Homo sapiens: one gene and its partners. Each later gene encodes a partner of the first gene's protein in a complex. Each region holds a gene or a part of one and is shown in the gene's direction. Other genes may lie near its edges.

Region 1 (7,502 bases):
TGGCTCTATCCTTTGAGGAGCTTAAGAAAGAAGTCTCATGTACCAGAAAAAGTTAAAGAGCGATAGAACACTAAAATCTAAATGTAGGAATGAAAAAGTATTTCCTGAGTGCCCAGGAATAATGAGTTTTATTTTGATTTTACAGGCTTCTTCCTCAGAAAAAAAAAGGAGGGTCTTGGGAGTGTTCTTGGCTTCCAGCTGAATAAATACATGCAACAGTAGTTTGTAGTGTTAACCAATCATATGCAAATCTTGCTTATTTGGAATTTTGGAATAATTTTGAAAATATCGAGATGAAACTGAGTTACCCAACCAATGCCTCAACAAATTTTATTTAACAAGTAATGTTTATTGAACACCTGCTATATGCCAAGCCCTGTACTAGGTACCGAGAATCCAGTGGTGTGTGTGTCAGAACATTTTAAACCATAACTAATAGAAAACTTGATATGAATGACTTAAACAATAAACAAACTTATTATCTAACCAAACAAGAAATTCCAAGGTAGATCAGTTTCAGACTTGTAGAAAACGTTATTTTTATCTTTTAAGAGATGGAGTCTTGCTCAGTCACCTAGGCTGGAATGCAGTGGCGTGATCATCACTCACTGCAGCCTTTGAAGTCCTGAGCTCAAATGATCCTCCCACCTTAGCCTCCTGAGAAGCTGGGGCTACAGGCATGTGCCACCATGCCTGGCTAATTTTTAGTGTTTTTCTGTAGAGATGGGGTCTGGCTTCATTGCCCAGGCTGGTCTCTAACTCCTGACCTCAAGGGATCTTCCCACCTAAGTGTTGGGATTACAGATGTGAGCCATTGTGCCCAGCCAGATTTGCAGAAAACAGATAATGCAACACATCTCATCAGCATAACTAAGCATCTGAGCTCTTTGTAATTTTCCATTCTCTTTTCTTTCAGACAATGGCTTGTTCTTAGTTGTCTCCCCTCATGATTATAAGACAGCTGCCATATTCCAGACACATCTCACAATGCTGTCTAGTAGAGAAACAAGTGCTGTTTCTTCTCATGTGTTTTATTTTTTATCACTGGGGAAGAAATCTTTCCCAGAAATTCTTAGCAGACTTTCCCTCCTGAAGCGCATGGCTTCAGGAAACTGGAGGCTTGAACAGAACTGGGGTTCTACCAAAAGGAGGAAGGCGAATGGACAGTGGCTGAACAGACCGTCTACTAACAGCACCAAGTAATGATTAAATAGACTGCCCCTGCATTGAGGGACAGAAACAATGTCACAGATGACATACAGTTACAAACTGTAACAAATACATGATCAGAGAGAACCGTGCACATAGCAAGGTCATGGATCTAGAAAGGCCACTCATTGAGGAAGTGAAAGATGAGTAGGAACTAGCCAGGCAGGCTTGGGGGAAGAGTGTTACATGGGCGGAGGAAGAGGCTGGCTCATATGAAACCATGAAAGGAGGCCTGTGTAGCTGGAGTTCTTGGGAGAGGAGGAGGGGAAATGACCTGGAATGAGCACAGGGCAGCAGGCAGGGGGCTTCCTGCAGCATGGGAAGGAGTTCGGGTTATATCCTGAGAGCAGTGCAAAGCCATGGAAGGTTTAAAAACAGGGGCCATGAAGTGATCTGACTTGTGTTTTTAAAAGCTCAATCTGGATGGAGAGGCAAAGAAATGTTAAAAGACTATCATGTTCACCTGGGAGTTGATAGTGGCTTGGCCTGAGTGGTGACAGGAGAAGGGGAGGGAAAGTGGATGAAATGGAGCATGAATGGCTTTGCTAGTGCCCTGGGGGATACAAACATGGGTTAGCCCAGGACTTCCTCCTGAGGCACACTATTTGAGGTGCTAAGACTTGCATGCACATACATTGGTGAAGAGTGATTAAGGGCCACATGGGAGGTGCGGAGAAGGAGATGCAGGAGTTCAGAAGGCGAGATCATGGGTTTGAGCGCTTTCAGGCAGGACTGATTTCAGGGCAGTGTGTTAAGGAGAGTGCTATTTTAGCAGGCCTTCGAAGGCTATGCAAGGTGGGTTTGAAGGTGCAGACATGGGAGAGGGCAGCCTAGAAAGAGGAACTAGCACGAGTCGCACAGATGCAGGAATGAAGGCATAGCGGGAGAAGAGTAAGCAGCAGAGTTTGTATGGGATTGTGAAGGAAAGTTCTGGGGATAAGGCTAGAAAAGTCTTGGCAGTCAGATTAAGGAGAGTTCTGAGTGTCAGGGTGGGATAATAGGAGGGCAAAAACATTTTTTAAAAATGAAGTCTAATTTAGCTACAAATCCATTTGGTTTTCTCAGGAATAATTAATGTGCTATTCAAGTCCTGATTATTTATTCACTAGATGGAATAGCAATACCTCTTTCTGCCATCACTGCTACCTGCAGGTCATTTACCAATGATTTCTAATTTCTTTTAGAATGTATCCCTTCATCATGTATTGAGTATCTGTGCTAGAGATCCTAGAATGAAAAGGCATGGTCCCAACTTCCAAGGAGCCCATGAATTGAGCAGATAAAGAGATAAATTGCAGTAAGTATGATGCAAGTTTTTGGGTAAAGGTGGTACAAAGGAGAGGAAAATTCTCCTACTACCCAGAGTTCAGGGCTAGATTTAGCACAGTTGGTGACATTTAAACTGGGCTTTGAAAGATGAGTAGGAGTTTGCCAGGCAAAGAAGAGAGCTGGGAAGGCCTTGTAAACACAGGAAAACAATCTGGACAAAGACACACATGTCTTCTTAATTCTCACACCTTCAATCCTACAAGCACTGTGGAGTATACATTTTTAAGTTTTATTTTCAGGCTTTTAGGGGAAGCTTGGTGATAATGAGTGAATTCTTTCAGTTGCTACAAAACAAGAGTTTGCATCTAAGTATTTGACCCCCATAAACATGCATTTTACCTAAAAAGAAGCCTGGATTTTAGCAAGCCAAATTGGCTATACCCTTTACCCCCAGTTATTCCTCTGGGAGGTTTTACTGATTTTTACTTTTCTGGAAAAGCAAGGAAAGAACTCTTAAATCTGTTTTTTCAGAGACTAGTAAATCCATTAGTCATCAGTGCAGGACTTTCATCTCTTCAATTTTTCACTGGAAGATGGGAGAAGTCATAATTCACTGTCATGTGGCTCCCAATTTTGACATTTGCAGGAAATTGGTCCCCTCTGAACTTCATGAATGTTCATAAAAGTTATTTCGGCTGGGCACGGTGGCTCACTCCTGTAATCCCAGCACTTTGAGGGGAGGCCGAGGAGGCCGAATCACCTGAGGTCAGGAGTTCGAGACCATCAGCCTGGCCAACATGGTGAAACCCCATCTCTACTAAAAATACAAAAATTAGCAGGGCGTGGTGGCAGGCTTCTGTAATCCCAGCTACTCAGGAGGCTGAGGCAGGAGAATTGCTTGAACCCAGGAGGCAGAGGTTGCAATGAGCTGAGATCGTGTCACTGCATTCCAGCCTGGGCAACAAGAGTGAAACTCCGTCTCAAAAAAAAAAAAAAAAAAGTTATTTCAGGCCCAGATCAGATGGATCTCCAAAGATTATCCTGTCTCAAAAATTTGTTAATGATAATTTCAGCTCAAGATAAACACTAACATATTAATACAGCCTATGGGATTACAAAAAAGTGAGCAAGGAATTCATTCAAGACTGGAAAGAATTATCCTCTCATCTGACACTCCCATTTAACAAGGGTGTGGAAATCAAGGCCCAGTGACACAGGATTTTTTCTCCATCACTTTGTAAGCCAGGAACCTCTGGCTGGTGACACCCTGCCCAGGCCTCAGTGGGCCACACTACCTGCTGCAGGAGATGGCCTGCCCACTCGGCCTGGGTGGGGAGTTTTATTGAGTGATGAAAACAGCTTTCAGTGGAGAGGGGATGCAGGGGTGGTTCCCCTACCCAAAGGCAGGAAAGTCCCCCCAGTGCGGGTGAGTCTGGGGCTTTTATGGGCTCAGAATAGGGGAGGGGCAGGACATAGGTAGTACTGGAAAAGGCAACATTCAATTGGTTAAAAGGCATTAGTCAGAAATAATTAATTGGGAAAGAGCAGACAAACAGGAACAGAAGTTCTCACTCTAGGTCACGGGTTTCATTTGGGACCAGTAGCCTAGTCTTTCAGCCTTCAGGCTGTTTTTGGCTTGAAGGTGGGGTTTCACCAGGGACCTGCCCCTATCTGCCTAGGCATTTGGCTGCCTCCTGTCATTATCACCAGGGAGGTGCCTCTACCTGCCAAGGTTACCCTGGCTCTAGAAGCAGAACTTTGGCCAGAAGCTGCCACAGAACAGGGGTGGGAGAGAGAAGAGGAGCTGGGTGACAGAGCAGAAGCATTTTGGGGAACTGATCCTTCAGGCAGCAGCTGATGTACTTCCTCTCTCCTCCACACTCCACCCCTACTCGCCCTCTCTCTCTCTGCTTCTTTCCTTTTCTCTCTCATGGTAGGGTTATGAGTCAGTTGCCAAAAGGTGGGGACATTTCCTGATGCATTTGCAACACTGAGAAGTTATCTTAAGGGAGGCTGGGCCCCATTCTACTCATCTGGCCCAGAAAGTGAACACCTTGGGGGCCACTAAGGCAGCCCTGCTAGGGGAGACGCTCCAACCTGTCTTCTCTCTGTCTCCTGGCAGCTCTCTTGGCCTCCTAGTTTCTACCTAATCATGTCCCTGGTGGAGGCCATCAGCCTCTGGAATGAAGGGGTGCTGGCAGCGGACAAGAAGGACTGGAAGGGAGCCCTGGATGCCTTCAGTGCCGTCCAGGACCCCCACTCCCGGATTTGCTTCAACATTGGCTGCATGTACACTATCCTGAAGAACATGACTGAAGCAGAGAAGGTGAGTGGAGGTGCCTCTTTCCGGGCCTCCTCTGTGCATTTGTTATTATGATTCTCAACCCCATTGCATTTCGGAAACCTAACCTCTGGGGAGATTGAAAAGAACAAAAGTTGCCCAAGCTCCACCCCTAGACAGCCTGATTTAACTGGTCTGGGAGGGGCCCCAGGCAGCCAGTTTTAAAAGCTCTCCAGGTGGAGAGCAGGTGAGGGGCAGCCAGGGTTGCCTCTTTCTCCATCTTCTAAATTAAAATCATTCTACAAGTGTCTTTAACACCTTTGTGAAGGCTGTCCTAGTCGTACTTTCTTCTACACAGAACTCCTTCTGGGCACAGAATCTCTATCTATCCCAGCGCTTTACACCTGATTATTGATTCTAAGGCACCTCTTTTGGCTTTCCAAGACTTTCATGTGTGTCGACTTTGCCTGCTCAAGAGATTTAAGGGAGGCACTTACAAAAAATAGCTTTTATCCCAAGTGACAATTCTGATCAATTATAAAGGAGACTCTTTTAAAGATGCTGAGGCTGGCAAGAGGAAATTGTACTGTGATTGACTAGTGATGTCTGCTGGGGGCATGGTGTGGGATGTCTCGCATCTTTTTCGTTATGTTTTCTCACTCAAATACCATAGTATGGAGTTAAGCATTCTCGATAATTATTTTTTTGATTGGTTGTGGTAAGGTGGAAAGGGTATGGAGTTTGGAAGGAGAAGATCTAGGATCGAATCCTAGCCTCTGTCTCTCTCTGGACTTTTAGTCTTAAGCAAGCTATGTAGCCTATGTAGACATCTGGCTTTCAGCTTCCTGAGTTTCTAAATATCATGAAAATTAAGTGAGATGCCAAACTATTAATGTCTCGTGGAACTTCACACCACTGTATAAGAGTTAGTTATTATTTTTACCGATTACTGCCAGTCTTTGCAAGGTGTGGCAGTGGTTGACTCCCCAGGTCCCTTAAAGAATCAGTCCCTTCCACACTCCAACAGTAGGTAAACAAGCCTCAGCCACACCCTCCTGACAGGAAGACAGAGAAGTGACTGAAATGTTCTCACATAGCTTGACAAGTCAATCTCAGGCTCTAAGGCAGAGCATGGCAGGACCCCCCACCTCTGGCTGGAGGAAGGACATGGCCCCACCTCCTCTCAGGGGCCTGCTGAGGGGCTGAGTGAACAGCACCACACATTCTGAGGGCTGATGGACACAAAGTGCACATTGTCCAGGAGAAGAGATTGGCAGCTAGTCTGGGCACAGCTATGCCAGCAGGGACTGTAGCCTCCTGCCTTGGCCTGGATATGGGATCCTTGGCAAGGTTGTGTGGGCCACCACTCACTTCTCAGCTCCCAGGCCTTCAGGCCCACATGTCTCTGTTTCTCCTGGCATTCCTCTGCTTCTAGCCTTCTCATTCCTTCTGCCTTTCTTTGTTTTCCTGCTTGAGCCCTTCCTACTAGCATTTATATGCATTCTTATTCATTATCATTTTAATTGTATACTATTCATGTATAAGTTTGTATAGTAAACAAATATAACAATTTATATAATATTTTAATTATTTTCATTTGCAATAAATTTTATTATTTATTTAAACTGAATGTTCAATACATTCATAGGAATACAAGAAATGCAACAAGGGTTAAAATTTCATTATTACATTAGATATCATTTTTTCTTTCTTTTTTTTTTTTTTTGAGATGGAGTCTCACTCTGTCACCCAGGCTGGAGTGCAGTGGTGCAATCTCGGCTCACTGCAACCTCTGCCTCCTGGGTTCAAGTGATTCTCCTGCCTCAGCCTCCCAAGTAGCTGGGATTACAGGCATGCACCACCAAGCCCGTCTAATGATGTTTCATTTTTCAAAGAAGCTTCTCCTATTTCCCTATCTTTTTTATCTTCCACAGAGCAATAAATAGTAATTACTACTCTCCTGGACAAGGTGCTCTGTTGTGTTGGATAGGAATTGTATCTTTAAGTTTGACATCATTATCACCTCCAAAAACTCTACCTTCACTTCATAGCACAGTCTCGCTGCATTGTTTCACAGTAAAATTGTACTCTACTCAAACTAGGAGAACTCAAAGAAATTAGAGCAAACAGCAGTTAAATTCATATGAATGAAAGACAGAAGACCAAAGATTTTAAAGTACTGATTTAGTAACATAGTGTCTACTGGCTCAAAGCTTCTATCTAATCATATTAAATCATATTATTAAAACAGCGATAATAGAAATGAAAGCTACACTAATGAAAAAGGAACTTGGGAATGAGGTCATTAAATATAACTAACTATATTTTAAATATAGATATGTATTTTTTATTAGTATCAGGTAAATGTCTAAATTATCTATTCTGAATTCTAGTCTCAGAGAAGGTCAGAGACAGTTACAAAGAAGGCGCTTCATATTGTCAAGTCCATTTTTAAAATGATGAGCTCCTTTGGGAAAATGCTTTAGTGTTTCTTTTCTTCTAAGATTTCTGTTGGTGATAATCCATTAGTGTCTGCACCCTTATAGTCCACTTTGTCTTTATTTGTATCATTGGATTTTTTTTTTTTTTTTTTTTTTTTTTTTTTGAGACAGGGTGCCTTACTTTGTTGCCCAGGCTGGAGTGCAGTGGTGCCGTCACAGCTCACGGCAGTCTCCACCTCCTGGGCTTGAGCGATTGACCTACCTCAGTCCCCCAAGTAGCTGGGACCACAGGCATGTGCCAC
Region 2 (7,026 bases), on another chromosome or scaffold:
CAGCTAGCTCTCTTGCTGAAAATGAGCAACATAAGTACATGAAAAACCCAACAAGTAGGATTTGAAAGCGGGGCTAATTGTACCCTTATTTCTTCTGGGGATAAAAGTCTTAAACTTTGTTTAAAGTAAAATGTTTTTATTTCTGACGGTGATTTGTTTCACTTAAATAGCTTGTTGTTTGTTTCTTTCATTTCTCTTAAGTTTTGGGTTGGGTTTGGTTTGTTTCCCGCAAGTTTTGCCCGTGCCGCCTTCCTCCTTGTGCCTGCAGGGACATTTGCTGGTGTGGCAGCCTCCAGGCCCGTCCCCAGCCTTTTTCTTGGCACACCTTCTCTAGGATGGCTGGGACAGTGACTTAGCTTCTACACCTGTGACTAACCATTTTCATTCCATTCTACAGCTTTGACAATTATTCTGCCAATGTTATGGTAGATGGAAAACCGGTGAATCTGGGCTTATGGGATACAGCTGGACAAGAAGATTATGACAGATTACGCCCCCTATCCTATCCGCAAACAGTAAGGATTGCAGCTGACTTTTAATGTGTCTTTTAGAGTATATAATTCTCGAGCGCTTAATTAGTGCATGTTACCTATGGACTTGCTTATATTGCCATCATTTGGGTATTGAGTAAATAGCAAACAGGGTGGGATTGGTTCCATGTAAACATCCCCCTAGATGCAAGCCCAGGGGTTTTGTGTTTTGAGCGTTACCAGCTGTTCCATTGTTGGGCATTTTACAGTCTTCCATTTAGCTTTAGAATAACCGTATGAAAGAGCTACTTTTTGTTTTTGCAAACCAGTTTTTAACACCAATTAGTTTGAAGGCAGGTTTGCTGTGTGACATTTTTGTACCACAGAATCAAATTAGGCAGTTAAGATTCAGGTTTCTTTAAACCAAGTTAGTAACTAATCTCACAGGTTTAATACATTTTTTCCCACAAAATACATAATTTGTATGGATTTTGTGAACCATACAATAGAACCTAAATTTATTCAATGTAGATTGAAGTTTTGGTTTTGTAAAATGTATCCACTGTGTCTAATCAGAAAAAAAAGTTTACTTTTGCTTCTGTATCAGACAACTAAGTGATTTATTTACCAAAGCTAATTAGAGCAGTAGCTGGTGAAAATGGGTACTTAGAAGACATTGTTGTCATTAAAAGTTACTTTTCTTTAAGCAGCGGTTTTACTTGTGTATCATTTGCTTATCTTGTTACATGTTTGTTCTTCATTTTTAAAAGTATCTTTGGAAGCAAAAGTTAAATATGCTTGAGATTCCTTGGGTTGATAACCTGTGTGCATGTCCTAGCTCTGTGACTTCAGGCAGGCTTCATCCTCTCTCCAGTCTTTGCCTGTTTCCTTGTAGGGTGAGATGAGTACGTGTCACGCACGCATAACAGTCCTGGGCACATAGCACACACTGTGGGGCCAGCCGCTGTCAGAATTCTCCTGTTCCTCAGTGTGCGGGTGGGTCGGCCTAAAGAGTGCTGCTTTCCACGTTGTGCCCAAATGAGTGGAAGTTGTGTGGTGCTCAGCACACCTGGGTTGGCCGGAGGGATTGGGGTTGGGGTTGGGTTGAGGTCAGGAAGACATCCTAGAGAAAGGCTGGCTTTGAGCCCTGATTGATGATGAGGCAGCCTGTGATTGATTCAACCAGTACTTCGTTGTAGGGGGTAATATGGGTGAAATAACTTAGTGGTTAAGTCTGCTGTATTAAAAATCAGTCTATAATCCCCAGACAATTCAAATTCTTCAGTATCTTAGGAAACTCTTCTATACCCAGTGGATGTTTAATAATTCAGATTGTAAATGGATTTAAAAACATACTGGCTGGTAGAGTAGGAGACTTCAGCCCACTGGACACATGTGGAAGGGTGTGGTGTCATTCTGAGAAACAAGAGCCACCCTGCTGTGACTCAGGGGGTACCGGGCAGGGTGAGGCCTCTCTAAGGAAGGCCTCACAGTAAGTCAAGGGTGACTTGGCAGGAGTCCCACTTTGTGTTCTGAGGAACACACAGATAAGGAAAGAGAACTCTCCTCAGCTTGAACAAAGCTGTAGAGTGTGACGCCTGGTATCAAAGTAGGTGTTGTCCTCATAGGGCTAGAACTTAAACTTCATGTTTCCTCTGTGTGAGACTGTGGACTGCTTTCCTATAAAATATTTGAGGAGCAAGGAGGGAGTGGGACATGGTTCTTGCCCTCAGGTAGTTCACAGAAAAGTCCCATAAACTGTGTAAGACACCCTGTGCTAGCAAGGGGGTGAGCCGGGCGCTTAAGGAGCAAGAGGGGCGAGCACCCACCCAGCAGTGGAAGCATTCCTGTCTGGACTCCTTCAGAGATAAGGAAATTATCTTGACAACTCAGGGGCAGGCCACAGATGCTCAGATACCAGTGTCTGGAAGGTCTCATCCCTTTGAGCCACACTGTCCTAAGAAGAACTGGATCTGGTAGTAACATGCTGGCACCTGGGTCTCTTGTTGATAAAGGGGAAACCTCTAAATTTTGTACTACATGGAATGTGGTCCCTGATTGCTGGCTCTGTGGTCTGCAGACCTGTTGATGTAGCTCATCCAAGACTGCTTAGACACTCTCCTGAAGGACCAGTTGGAAGATTTCTTATCTAGGGTGTCCTAAAAAGAGATGTTACATTTCTTGTGGTCATTTAACATTGGCATCCTCTCTATTGGGCAGCTCTGTCGGGCTAAGTCTGTTCAGACCATTCATTTCTTCTTCGTTCTCCAAAAGATGGTGAGCAGGTAGTCGCCATTCTTAGTTGAAATTGCCCTTCAGGTTTTTATTTCCCGAATTACGTAATCCTTACATTATTTTCTCTTGAAAATCTTTGCTAAGTTCTGCATACTCATCTTCAGTTGCTATGCACAGAATCAAGTCTTGTCAGAGTAACGCTCAAGTCCAGCATCTTCCCTTGTGTAGATCACCTGTATTTATTTGCCTGCTTGTACCAGCATTGGTGGTGTGAGTGGGAGCCTAAGTGACCTGTCAGTGTCACAGCGAGTCCTGAGCCCTGTGTGTGTCCTGAGACTCAGGCTGTGCAGCGGGTTCGCTGAGATGCTGAGCCTCCATGTTGGGGTCAGCCAGGACCCCAGTGCGTCATGCCAGTTGTTTCATTTTCTCTCTAGGCTAAAAGTTGTTGTTGTTGTTGTTGTTGTTTGAGACAGAGTTTCGCTCTTGTTGCCCAGGCTGGAGTGCAATGGTGTGATCTTGGCTCACTGCAACCTCCGCTTCCCAGGTTCAAGTGACTTTCCCGCCCTAGTCTCTCAAGTAGCTGGGACTACAGGCATGTGCTACCATGCCTGGCTAATTTTGTTTTGTATTTTATTTTTTTTGAGACGGAGTCTTGCTCTGTCGCCCAGGCTGGAGTGCAATGGTGCGATCTTGGCTCACTGCAAGCTTCACCTCCTGGGTTCACGCCATTCTCCTGCCTCAGCCTCCCAAGTAGCTGGGACTACAGGCGCCCGCCACCACACCTGACTAATTTTTTATATTTTTAGTAGAGACGGGGTTTCACCATGTTAGCCAGGATGGTCTTGATCTCCTGAGCTTGTGATCCGCCCGCCTTGGCCTCCCCAAGTGCTGGGATTACAAATTTTGTATTTTTAGTAGAGACGGGGGTTTCTCCACTTTGGTCAGGCTGGTCTCCAACTCCTGACCTCAGGTGATCCGCCTGCCTCTGCCTCCCAAAGTGCTGGGATTACAGGCGTGAGCCACTACGCCTGGCCAGTGCTAGAGGTTTTAAAGTGGTGGGCTAGACTCCTGTGATGGTAGATAAAAAGAAAAACTGTGGTGTTCAGCTTGGCAGTTTTGAGTTTCAAAAGGCCTCAGCTTTTGTGAGGTTGGCTGTTACAAGTGCAGCCAGAGAGCACCAGGCACACACATGTGGTTCCGCAGAACTAGAGTTGTTACTCTTCGCCGCGAGGGAAACACGCACCTGGGGACTGTGGGAATTCGGCCCTCACTCTTACTGGCCGGGAGCAGGGGATATTTGGTGATTTTTGTGGTTTGTATGATGATCTTGGATTTGTCACTACTTAGAAACGATTATGAGTTGTTTTTTTTAAAGTTTACTTACTTTTGGTCCTATTTCAGCACAGTCACACAGGTGACCTTCTCTGATGTTAGTGTTCTGCGAGATTATTCTATTCAATAGTAACACCTCCACCAGGGCGAAGCTGCGAGTGCCAGGCTGGTTCTCATACGTCAGGGCTGCCTGACCCTTTTACAGGATTACAGGCGTGAGCCACTGCGCCTGGCCAGAATGTCTGTGTGTTTTAAAATTCCAAACTTGAAAGTAAAATCCAGGTGGATAGCATTTGGAAGAGAATAAAACGAAGTAGAAACAACACTACTTTTTTGTAGTGAGATCTCAGCTGTCCAGATGCCCGCCCTGTCTTACTCCATGGAAAGTGGACCCATCTGTTGTGGATGGTTCCACCAGTGGGCAGGAGGCTGTGGGAAGAGCAGCCCTGGCTACACTTACCACCGAGGAGGGAGTGGTGTGTGATGCAGGAGTAACAAAGGCGTTGAAGGCACCACGTGTGTAACAGGCACGCGGGAGTCTGGGTTAGTCAGAAAGGGGAAAGCAGTGCTCAGGTTGACTGGAAACATAGGCCGGTGACCGGAGACAGCCTGAGGCTCCAGAACACACAAGTGACCTGTGAGGAAGGAAACTGAGAGACCCTGGAGAGACACCGGTGGTGCCCTCTCAGGTCCTCTTGAGTGTTACGAGGACGGGGAAGAAATAGAGCCTCCCAGCCAGGGTCAGCCAGCACAGCCTCTGTATGTGAAGCGTCAGGACAGCGACGGCCGGGAGGAGGGGATGCTAGGAAGTGAGTACCAGAAGCACTAGACAGGGTTTTGGGAAGCTATATTTAGCTGGGGACGAAGAAGGAACAAGGAAGGAACAGGCAGATGGCATAGCACGAACGCCGGGTGGAAAGTGGAACTGCTCGCTCCTGTCGTGTGTGTCTCTTCTCCATCAAAAAAGAGGCTCTTAAAAATCGAAAGCATGCCACAGATACGATCAGAGGCTCTTTGGAAGCTGCATTTTTGTAACTGGTTCTCGATGATCCTCTCCCATGGTAAAGATTTGGCACCATATGAAGTCCTTGGGAGGACAAATCTTCAACAGTAGCCCATAGATGAAACCCAGATAGCTGTGGAAACTAATGTGCTCTTTGAATGTTAAGTCAGGAAAGCTTGAGTGGCCTGGCACGGTGGCTCACGCCTGTAATCCCAGCACTTTGGGAGGCCGAGGTGGGCGGATCACGAGGTCAGGAGATCGAGACCATCCTGGCTAACACGTTGAAACCTCGTCTCTACTAAAAATACAAAAAATTAGCCGGGCGTGGTGGCGGGCACCTGTGGTCCCAGCTACTCGGGAGGCTGAGGCAGGGAGAATGGTGTGAACCTGGGAGGCGGAGCTTGCAGTGAGCCAAGATCGTGCCACTGCACTCCAGCCTGGGCGACAGAGCGAGACTCCCTCTCAAAAACAAAAAAAAAAAAAAAAAAGAAAAGAAACCCCGTCTCTACTAAAAATACAAAAAATTTAGCTGGGCGCAGTGGCGGATACCTGTAGTCCCAGCTACTGGGGATGCTGAGGCAGGAGAATGGCGTGAACCCGGGAGGTGGAGCTTGCAGTGAGCCGAGATCGCGCCACTGCACTCCAGCCTGGGCGACAGAGCGAGACTCTGTCTCAAAAAAAAAAAAGAAAAAAAAGAAAAAAAGAAAAGCTTGAGTGAGATGAAATTAAAATAATTTTCTCATTTTGAGACAGGGTCTCGCTCTGTCACCCAGACTGGAGTGCAGTGTCACAATCTCGCCTCACTGCAACCTCCACCTCCCGGGTTCAAGCAGTTCTCTGCCTCAGCCTCCCGAGTAGCTGGGATTACAGGTGCCTGCCACCATGCCCGGCTAATTTTTTGTATTTTTAGTAGACACAGGGTTTCACCATCTTGGCCAGGTTGGCCTTGAACTCCTGACCTCGTGATCCACCTGCCTCGGCCTCCCAAGGTGTTGGGATTAGAGGCGTGAGCGCTTTTCTTAAAAGAGTTCCAGGGTTCTATGTTGGAAGAGCGAGTTTGTCAGTTTTTATTGGAACAAAGAAATGAATTGACAGCATTGTGATAAACACTGGAAGTGTCACTTCTAAAATTTGTCCATGGCTGAAAGTGGTGGCTCATGCCTGTAATCCCAGCACGTTGGGAAGCCAAGGTGGGTGGAGCACCTGAGGTCAAGAGTTTGAGACCAGCCTGGCCAACATGGTGAAACCTGGTCTCTACTAAAAATACAAAAAATTAGCTGGGCGTGGTGGTGTGTGCCTGTAGTCCCAGCTACTTGGGAGGCTAAGGCAGGAGAATCGCTTGAACCCAGGAGGCAGAGGTTGCAGTGAGCTGAGATCTCACCATTGCACTCCAGCCTGGGCAACAGAGCAAGACTCCGTCTCAAAAACGCTTGTCCTTAAGGGGTGGCTTCCCCCAGACCTACAAAGTAGCCCAGAATTGGAGGTCTTAGTGTCAGCAACAGTGCTGATTTTGATAATGCAAGTCTGTACATTCAAACCAGTCTCCCAGAACTAGGTGGAAGATAGGAACATTTCTGCATAGGAGACTTGGAATGTTCTGGCAGCATTAAAACCCTGAGGCCCGGCTATGTTCTGGGAGAGCCCTTTGGCAGGCATCATTTACAGACGGGTCCTTTTCCTGTATGCTGTGGCTTCAACTAGGCTGTGTCTGAGAACTCGGATGGAGCACTTGAAAGTGCCCGTGGCTCCCGCCTGCCTTTGCGGTAAGGGACAGTGCAGAACATCTCCGGCTGTGCCAGCTGTTGTAGATTCTGGTGGGTGCTGCCATGGGAGGAGGAGCACGTTGTTGCCCCCCCTCAGGATCTCCCTGACCTCTGTCTTCACCATCGTTGAACTTAACGCCTGCTTTTGACCAGGTAGCGTGGAGTGTTTCAGTGGCATTTGTCATCGAAGATATGTTAGAATCTATTGTATGCTTTTGGATCT
Region 3 (7,026 bases), on another chromosome or scaffold:
CTGGACAGAGGGGCTGTTCAATGCTTGTGGCTGTGATAAGCAGGAGTTTCAAGATGCGTGGAAACTACCTAAGTGAGTAAAAAGTACATATTACCAACGTATATGAGTTCAGGAAAAATGGCACTAAATAGCTCCTCTTCCTCCATGTTTTACTAAGTCTCCAACAAAACACACAGGTTCTAAGAATATAGGTAGCTATTTCTGTGGTCACCGTTTCATATGTGTAGTGTGTTTATGCATATTTTCATAAATCTTATGTGAAATATGAAAACCTTGAATCAAATATTAGAAATAAATACTCCCAAATTCCTTTAAATATGTAAGGGTCAAGGCCAAGTTATATTAACTTTCCTAACAAATATAATTGTAGTGTATCAAAAATATTCTTAAATTTTCATTGGCATAATTTATTTGAGGTTAAATGCCATATATTAGCCCCTTTGCCTCCTTTTCCCTGCATGCCTAACATGCTATAAGGCACTTAGTAGGTGCTAAAGAAAGGTTTGAGAGTTTGTTGAATAACTCAATGAATAGATAAATGAAAAGTGGAGACATTAAATCTACAAGATGTAATGATGCAGCAAATCCTCACTTCAGGGTGCACCGTATGCAAGAATTTCAAGAGTGGGATGTCCTGGCAAGACATAGGGTGTGTGTGGAGGGGGCGTTGTTGTGTGTGAAGAGGGGTGGGGAGATTAAAAAAAAAAAAAACTTGTTCTGAGTTACCGAATGTTTTTGGTTAGCCAAATATTTCTCTTTTTACTTCCAAACCCAACGTTGGCACTAAGTTTGGTTACTTGAAAGCTATTTCATAGAAGGAAGCACCCAATAGATACATTATTCCAATTTGAATTAACATGTTGCACATCCCCAATAATTATGGGTGCCCCATCTCACTCTGAAGAGCAAGACATCTCTGTAACTATCTCCTCCCCATTTCCCTTCAGGATAGCGGTTGATGGGCCCTTTGGCACTGCCAGTGAAGATGTGTTCAGCTATGAGGTGGTGATGTTAGTGGGAGCAGGGATTGGGGTCACACCCTTCGCATCCATTCTCAAGTCAGTCTGGTACAAATATTGCAATAACGCCACCAATCTGAAGCTCAAAAAGGTAAGTCCTTTCATTTATCGGAGGGCCTTAGAGCAGTAACCATACTCTGCCATGTGAGGCCTGAGAGTGCTTTCAGGGCTAAGGTTGGCAGAGACCATGGGAAGTGAAGAAAAGCTTCCGGTGGTTCCAGAGAGACAGGCTTTTCTTCAAAAGAATATTTGTTAAATCTAATGTGCTTCTAGATAAGTAGGCCTATTAGTGAAGGGAATATATTGTATTTGTATAGTGTTGCTGGAAATTCAGAAGAAAGAAAGTTGGGAAAGTATTCACAGCCCCAACTTAATAGCTGTAATTTTTGTATATTCTCTTCTAATATTTTCCATGTTTACATATTTTTAGAAGGTTGTAAATATTAAGTATGTATAATTTCATGTCCTGCTTTTAAAAAAACATTATAGAAAGTGTTTTTCAATGTCTTCACAGGCTTTATAATGATGACTTTAAATGATCTCTTCATGTTCTATTGAGAGGATATTGAATAATTTTTCTTTCATCTTGTGTTAGATACTGAGATTGATTCAATTTCCAGCCGCGCCCCACCCCCTCCACTCACCCAATACTTTTTTTGCAAAGGGAGGAGAGGAGACCTGAAACTCTACTTATGAATATCTCCTCAGGATCAATTCACAGGAGATTTTTTGGTTACCTATAAATTTGGTTTTATTGTGTAATAAAGGGCATCCTAAATAAACCTCAGGCCATTCTAATAACTGTAAAGATAAACTCTAATAGGGACATTAAGCCTACCTTGACTTTTCATTCTCCCTGTACCTCTTTTCCATGTGGAGGAGATGTGCATAGAACCTTATTTTTCCCCTCGGAACTCATGAATGTCTGGCAGTAGCAGCCAGGGAAGAATTTCTGTGGCAATCCCTGCTAGTCTAGATTCCATCAGGCTTTCTGAGAAGAGGTTCGAAGGAAGCCAGAGATTCTGGGAGAGTAAGAGCAGACTCAGAGGGAAATTTGGTGGGCTAATAGTTTTTTCTTAAGTTGTGTATTTCTGAGGTCAAGTTACTTATTTACTGCCCTGCTAGAGTGAAGGCCAGAGCAGGTTCATGTAAACTACCCTGTGAAATGTCCAGAGCCTTCTGAAAATCTATGTTTCTAGGCATTCTGAGCATCAAGAAAAAGTTTAGGTGACAGAAAGTGGAATTCCACATGGTAATGCTGATAGGGCCTGCCAAATATAATCTGCTTCATGATCCACCCCATTTTCAGATCTACTTCTACTGGCTGTGCCGGGACACACATGCCTTTGAGTGGTTTGCAGATCTGCTGCAACTGCTGGAGAGCCAGATGCAGGAAAGGAACAATGCCGGCTTCCTCAGCTACAACATCTACCTCACTGGCTGGGATGAGTCTCAGGTAAGGACAAGACTCCAAGGCTCAGGTCCTTCCCATAGTGTACAGGGCTTACGAACTTCCCCTTGGTTATTGGTGTGTCTTGTGTACTATTTTTTCTAAGTATGTTTAGTGGATTTGGTGATCCGGTCCATTCACTCTCATTTAGTATCGCCACATTATATTTAGACTGCTCAGATTAGAATCAAAGCCAAGGAGCCTGTGAGGGAATAAAAGCCATCACTTTGACATTATTAGAGCAATTCTCCCACCAGGCACTCTGAAACCAGGTGATTGAGATGATGCACAGGGTTATTTTGGGGAAAATTTAGCTTTCTCTTTCTCTCTGTCTCTCTCTCTGTCTCTCTGTCTCTCTCTCTCTGTCTCTGTGTGTGTGTGTGTGTGTGTGTAAAACAGACACTCCCCAACTTAATAATGGTTCAACTTATGATTTTTCAACTTTACAATGAAGTGAAAGCAATATGCATTCAGTAGAAGCCATACTTCAGTACAAGCCATACTTCAGTACTGTATTCAATAAATTACATGTGGTCTTAAACCTTTTATTATAAATAGGGTTCATGTTAGATGATTTTGTGCAATTGTAGGCTAATATAAGTGTTCTGAGCACATTTAAGGTAGTCTAGACTAAACTAACTATGATGTTTATTAAGTTAGATGTATTAAACCCATTTTAGACTTATGGTATTTTCAATTTAGTGATGGTTTTATCAGGATATAACACCATTGTAAGCTGAGGAGCATCTGTTTATATAACATACATAAGCATATAAAGGATTCTGTATATATATATTTTAATATGTATTTATATATGTATCATATATATTTATATGTACTATGTATATATGTATTTATAAAATCATTTAATTTATATGCTTTTGTATGTTTTATAATATACTCACTACATTTATAATTATTATGCATATATATTGCCAGGTATTATTCTTATGTATCTAGTCACATAGATTGTCTAATTTTATCATGTCACCAACCCTATGAAGTAGCTCTTATTATTTTCCACACTTTACAGATGAAAAAACTCAGACCAGGTTAGGTCATTTTCCTAAGAGCACCCAACAAGTAAGTGACAGAGACAGAATGTGCCAGAGCCTGTCCTTTCAGCATCTTGCAGTAGTTCATGATTATCATTTATAAATAAATTACTATATATCTAATGAATGTGATATATATGCATGTATGTGTGTGTGTATGTGTGTGTACAATGAGAGTGCTCTTTCAAAAATGTTTGGAGACCACTATAATAAAGTAGCCAATAGTTCTCAACTGGGACAATTTTGCTCTGCTCCTCCCCAAGACACACACCAGAGACAGTTGGCAATGTAAATATCCTACAATTAAAAAGACAGCCCCCCACAACAAAGAATTATACAGTCCCAAATATCAACAGTGCTGAAATTGACAAACCCTGAAACAAGGTAATGATTCCTGGAGTGGTAACATCTTTGTAAGTAAGCAAACGTTAATGACTTGGCCTGGAAGCAGCATAAGCTATCACCATGAGTGAGGAGCTAAGGCAAGAGTCTCTGCATATTTCTGTCCAGTGTCTCAGCTGGTGTCTTAGTCCATTTGTGCTGCTATAACAAAACACCCAAGACTGGGTAGTTTGTAAAGAACAGAAATTTATTTTCTCAAAGTTCTGGAGGCTGGCAAGTCCAAGATCAAGACACCAACAGGTTTGGTTGTCTAGCAAAGGCTGCATCTTCTGGGTGGGAGAAATACTGTGTTTTCACATGGTGGAAAGAAAAAGGGAAGGCTCGTCAAATACTGTGTGATGACTCTTTTCCAAAGCCCTTAACTCATTCATAAGGGATGATCCTTCATGTCTTAATCACCTTTTTAAGGCTCCACTTCTTAATGCTATCACATAGGCAACATCTGAATTTTGGAGAGGATACATTCAAACTGTAGCAACTGGGCATACATAGACATTGACTCCACAACCCTGGGAATCTTCCATGTGCACCCTGTCACTGTGAAGACTGAATTCCCATTTGGGTTTCAACATATTGTTTATCACAGATTCTCCAAGTCTTAAAGGAATCTTGTAGCAAATATAGATTAGGGAAACATAACGATAAGAATTGTTGCTCCATAAAAAGTGGTTTCAAAATGCCAGTTCTGCAATTTAAAAACAAAACAAAAATGCTTTGATAAAAATAAAACTCAGGAAAAAAATCTATAGTATATAAATTGCTTTACTGTTCTGTTATTTTAAAAGCCATGCACAGGTTTCTTTTTTAAATCAGTTATTTATTTGTATTGAAAAAGTAATTATTTTGCTTTGCAAAACTGATATCTATAGAATTATTAAATTGGAGTGCCCACCTTTCTTAACCTCCTCTATGACCATCATCCATCTAGTGAATTTCAAATCTGATTTGCTTTTTAAAAATAAATTTAATTAACCACTTTTATGAAAAATACCTGTTGCTCAAACTGAAGCCTCCTAGAATGGTAGCAGAAAAACAGTATGTGACTATATACACATATGTGCGTGCACACACACACATACACACACACTAGCTTTAGGCTTGATTTGATGTCTTATGCTACCAAAGTATTGCTGCATTTTAGTCTAAAATTGTTACATCTCTTAGTAATTCTCCCAAAGGAGTGGAAGTATATTAGGGTGGAGAGAAAAAGTCAAACATAGAGCAGAGAGAAAAACAGTGAGACACTATTCATCCATCAATGCCTGACTCAAATACTGCGGCCCTAACCCTTCCCCTATTCTTCCACTTCACCTTCCTTCTTTGTTCTCATTAGGACGCTTGTGCCTCCTTCATGACACACATCATACCCTGTTCGACATATGGGATTATTTATATTTATACTTCGAAGTCTCCCTTTCTAGACTGTAAATTGCTTGAGAGAGATCCAGTTTATTTATCTTTGTTTACCTTTCAGCATCCAGCAGGGTGCCTTGGTTAGAATAGCTTGTGAAGGATGTAAATACATTGTATGTGCTTTTACAGAATGTCTCTTTTTTTTCTGAATTCATGTCCTTTCCTGTAGGCCAATCACTTTGCTGTGCACCATGATGAGGAGAAAGATGTGATCACAGGCCTGAAACAAAAGACTTTGTATGGACGGCCCAACTGGGATAATGAATTCAAGACAATTGCAAGTCAACACCCTAAGTAAGGAGTCTGTCACCAAGATGTTTTTGAGGCTTGCATCTGCCTAAAGCGGCAGCCCCTATACATATCTAAACTTATATATTTTAGAAACTCAAATATGTATATTACTATATAAAGATTGAATTCATGCCCAACAGAAGATTCCAGATATCTTCAACTTTAAGAAGGATCTTTAAATTATACCAAATTACCTGGAGATTAATTAAAAACAAGTATTTCCAGGTCCCCATCTCAGATTTTCTCAACCTGCCTGTCCCAAGTAGGGCCACAGCTTAGTTCTTTTCTTTAGTCACCTAAATTTCATTAGTGTATCTACTTCTTTTAAAGATTCAATATAATTTATACATATTGTTAAGAAGACACTGTCCCCACTTTCAGTTCTAAAAGCTTCTGGGTCTAAAATCTTAAGTTGACAGATGTCTCAAGGTGCTTTCTGCTCTCACTAAAACTTTAGTCATTATAAAACCTTGAGGGGGATCCCTTATCTTGCTAGAACACCTAAGAAACTCAAGAGATCACCATACGTGTACCCTTCAGACTATTGCTTTTTGCACTGTAAGGAGCATACAAAGTGCCTGGGGATCTCTTTAAAATGCAGATACCAATTTAGAAGATTTGAGGTAGGGCCAGGTAATCTGCATTTTTTAAAAAGCTGACGCCAAGGCTACTGATCAGAAACCACACTTTGAACAGGGCTTCAGACTCTAAAATTTAGAGAAATGAAGCCACACTGAGTGGTTGGCATAGTTAGCTTGTTCCTAATTTCAAGATGCCAGGGGGCACAGAGCCCTGAAGGAAAGTAGCCCACGGACTCATGAATTCACCACCATTTTCTCTGTGATAGAAGTTTCCAAAAACCTTGGTTGGATTTTACTTTTGCCAGGGAAGTCAACTACCTTTTGAACTATCCAGATGCTCACACAAACAGGCTGAACCACACTCCCTCTGAGCAATATGATCCCTTTGCTATTTGTGGAAAAGAAAAAGGAGCAGAGGGGACTCTGCCCTGGGGCCTCAAATTAACGGGAAATTCACCTACCTGCTTTGTAGACATCTCATCCCAAAGCTTGAAATTGTCTTTTTTTTTCTTTCCCAAAAGTACCAGAATAGGAGTTTTCCTCTGTGGACCTGAAGCCTTGGCTGAAACCCTGAGTAAACAAAGCATCTCCAACTCTGAGTCTGGCCCTCGGGGAGTGCATTTCATTTTCAACAAGGAAAACTTCTAACTTGTCTCTTCCATGAGGAAATAAATGTGGGTTGTGCTGCCAAATGCTCAAATAATGCTAATTGATAATATAAATACCCCCTGCTTAAAAATGGACAAAAAGAAACTATAATGTAATGGTTTTCCCTTAAAGGAATGTCAAAGATTGTTTGATAGTGATAAGTTACA

What was found. Proteins that work in one complex are often made in the same cells at the same time.
Region 2: NCF2 (region 1) and RAC1 share a complex: the UniProt entries of both Homo sapiens proteins name them as parts of the phagocyte NADPH oxidase complex.
Region 3: NCF2 (region 1) and CYBB share a complex: the UniProt entries of both Homo sapiens proteins name them as parts of the phagocyte NADPH oxidase complex.

What each region holds. Positions count from the first base shown.
Region 1 is NC_000001.11:183,587,458-183,594,959, reverse strand, and holds the start of NCF2 (neutrophil cytosol factor 2), read left to right. Parts: upstream 1-4,500; 5' UTR 4,501-4,630; coding exon 4,631-4,804; intron 4,805-7,502. UniProt on the Homo sapiens protein: Subunit of the phagocyte NADPH oxidase complex that mediates the transfer of electrons from cytosolic NADPH to O2 to produce the superoxide anion (O2(-)).
Region 2 is NC_000007.14:6,391,527-6,398,552, forward strand, and holds part of RAC1 (ras-related C3 botulinum toxin substrate 1), read left to right. Parts: intron 1-397; coding exon 398-515; intron 516-7,026. UniProt on the Homo sapiens protein: Plasma membrane-associated small GTPase which cycles between active GTP-bound and inactive GDP-bound states.
Region 3 is NC_000023.11:37,804,059-37,811,084, forward strand, and holds part of CYBB (NADPH oxidase 2), read left to right. Parts: coding exon 1-72; intron 73-947; coding exon 948-1,110; intron 1,111-2,328; coding exon 2,329-2,475; intron 2,476-5,508; coding exon 5,509-5,633; intron 5,634-6,732; coding exon 6,733-6,859; 3' UTR 6,860-7,026. UniProt on the Homo sapiens protein: Catalytic subunit of the phagocyte NADPH oxidase complex that mediates the transfer of electrons from cytosolic NADPH to O2 to produce the superoxide anion (O2(-)).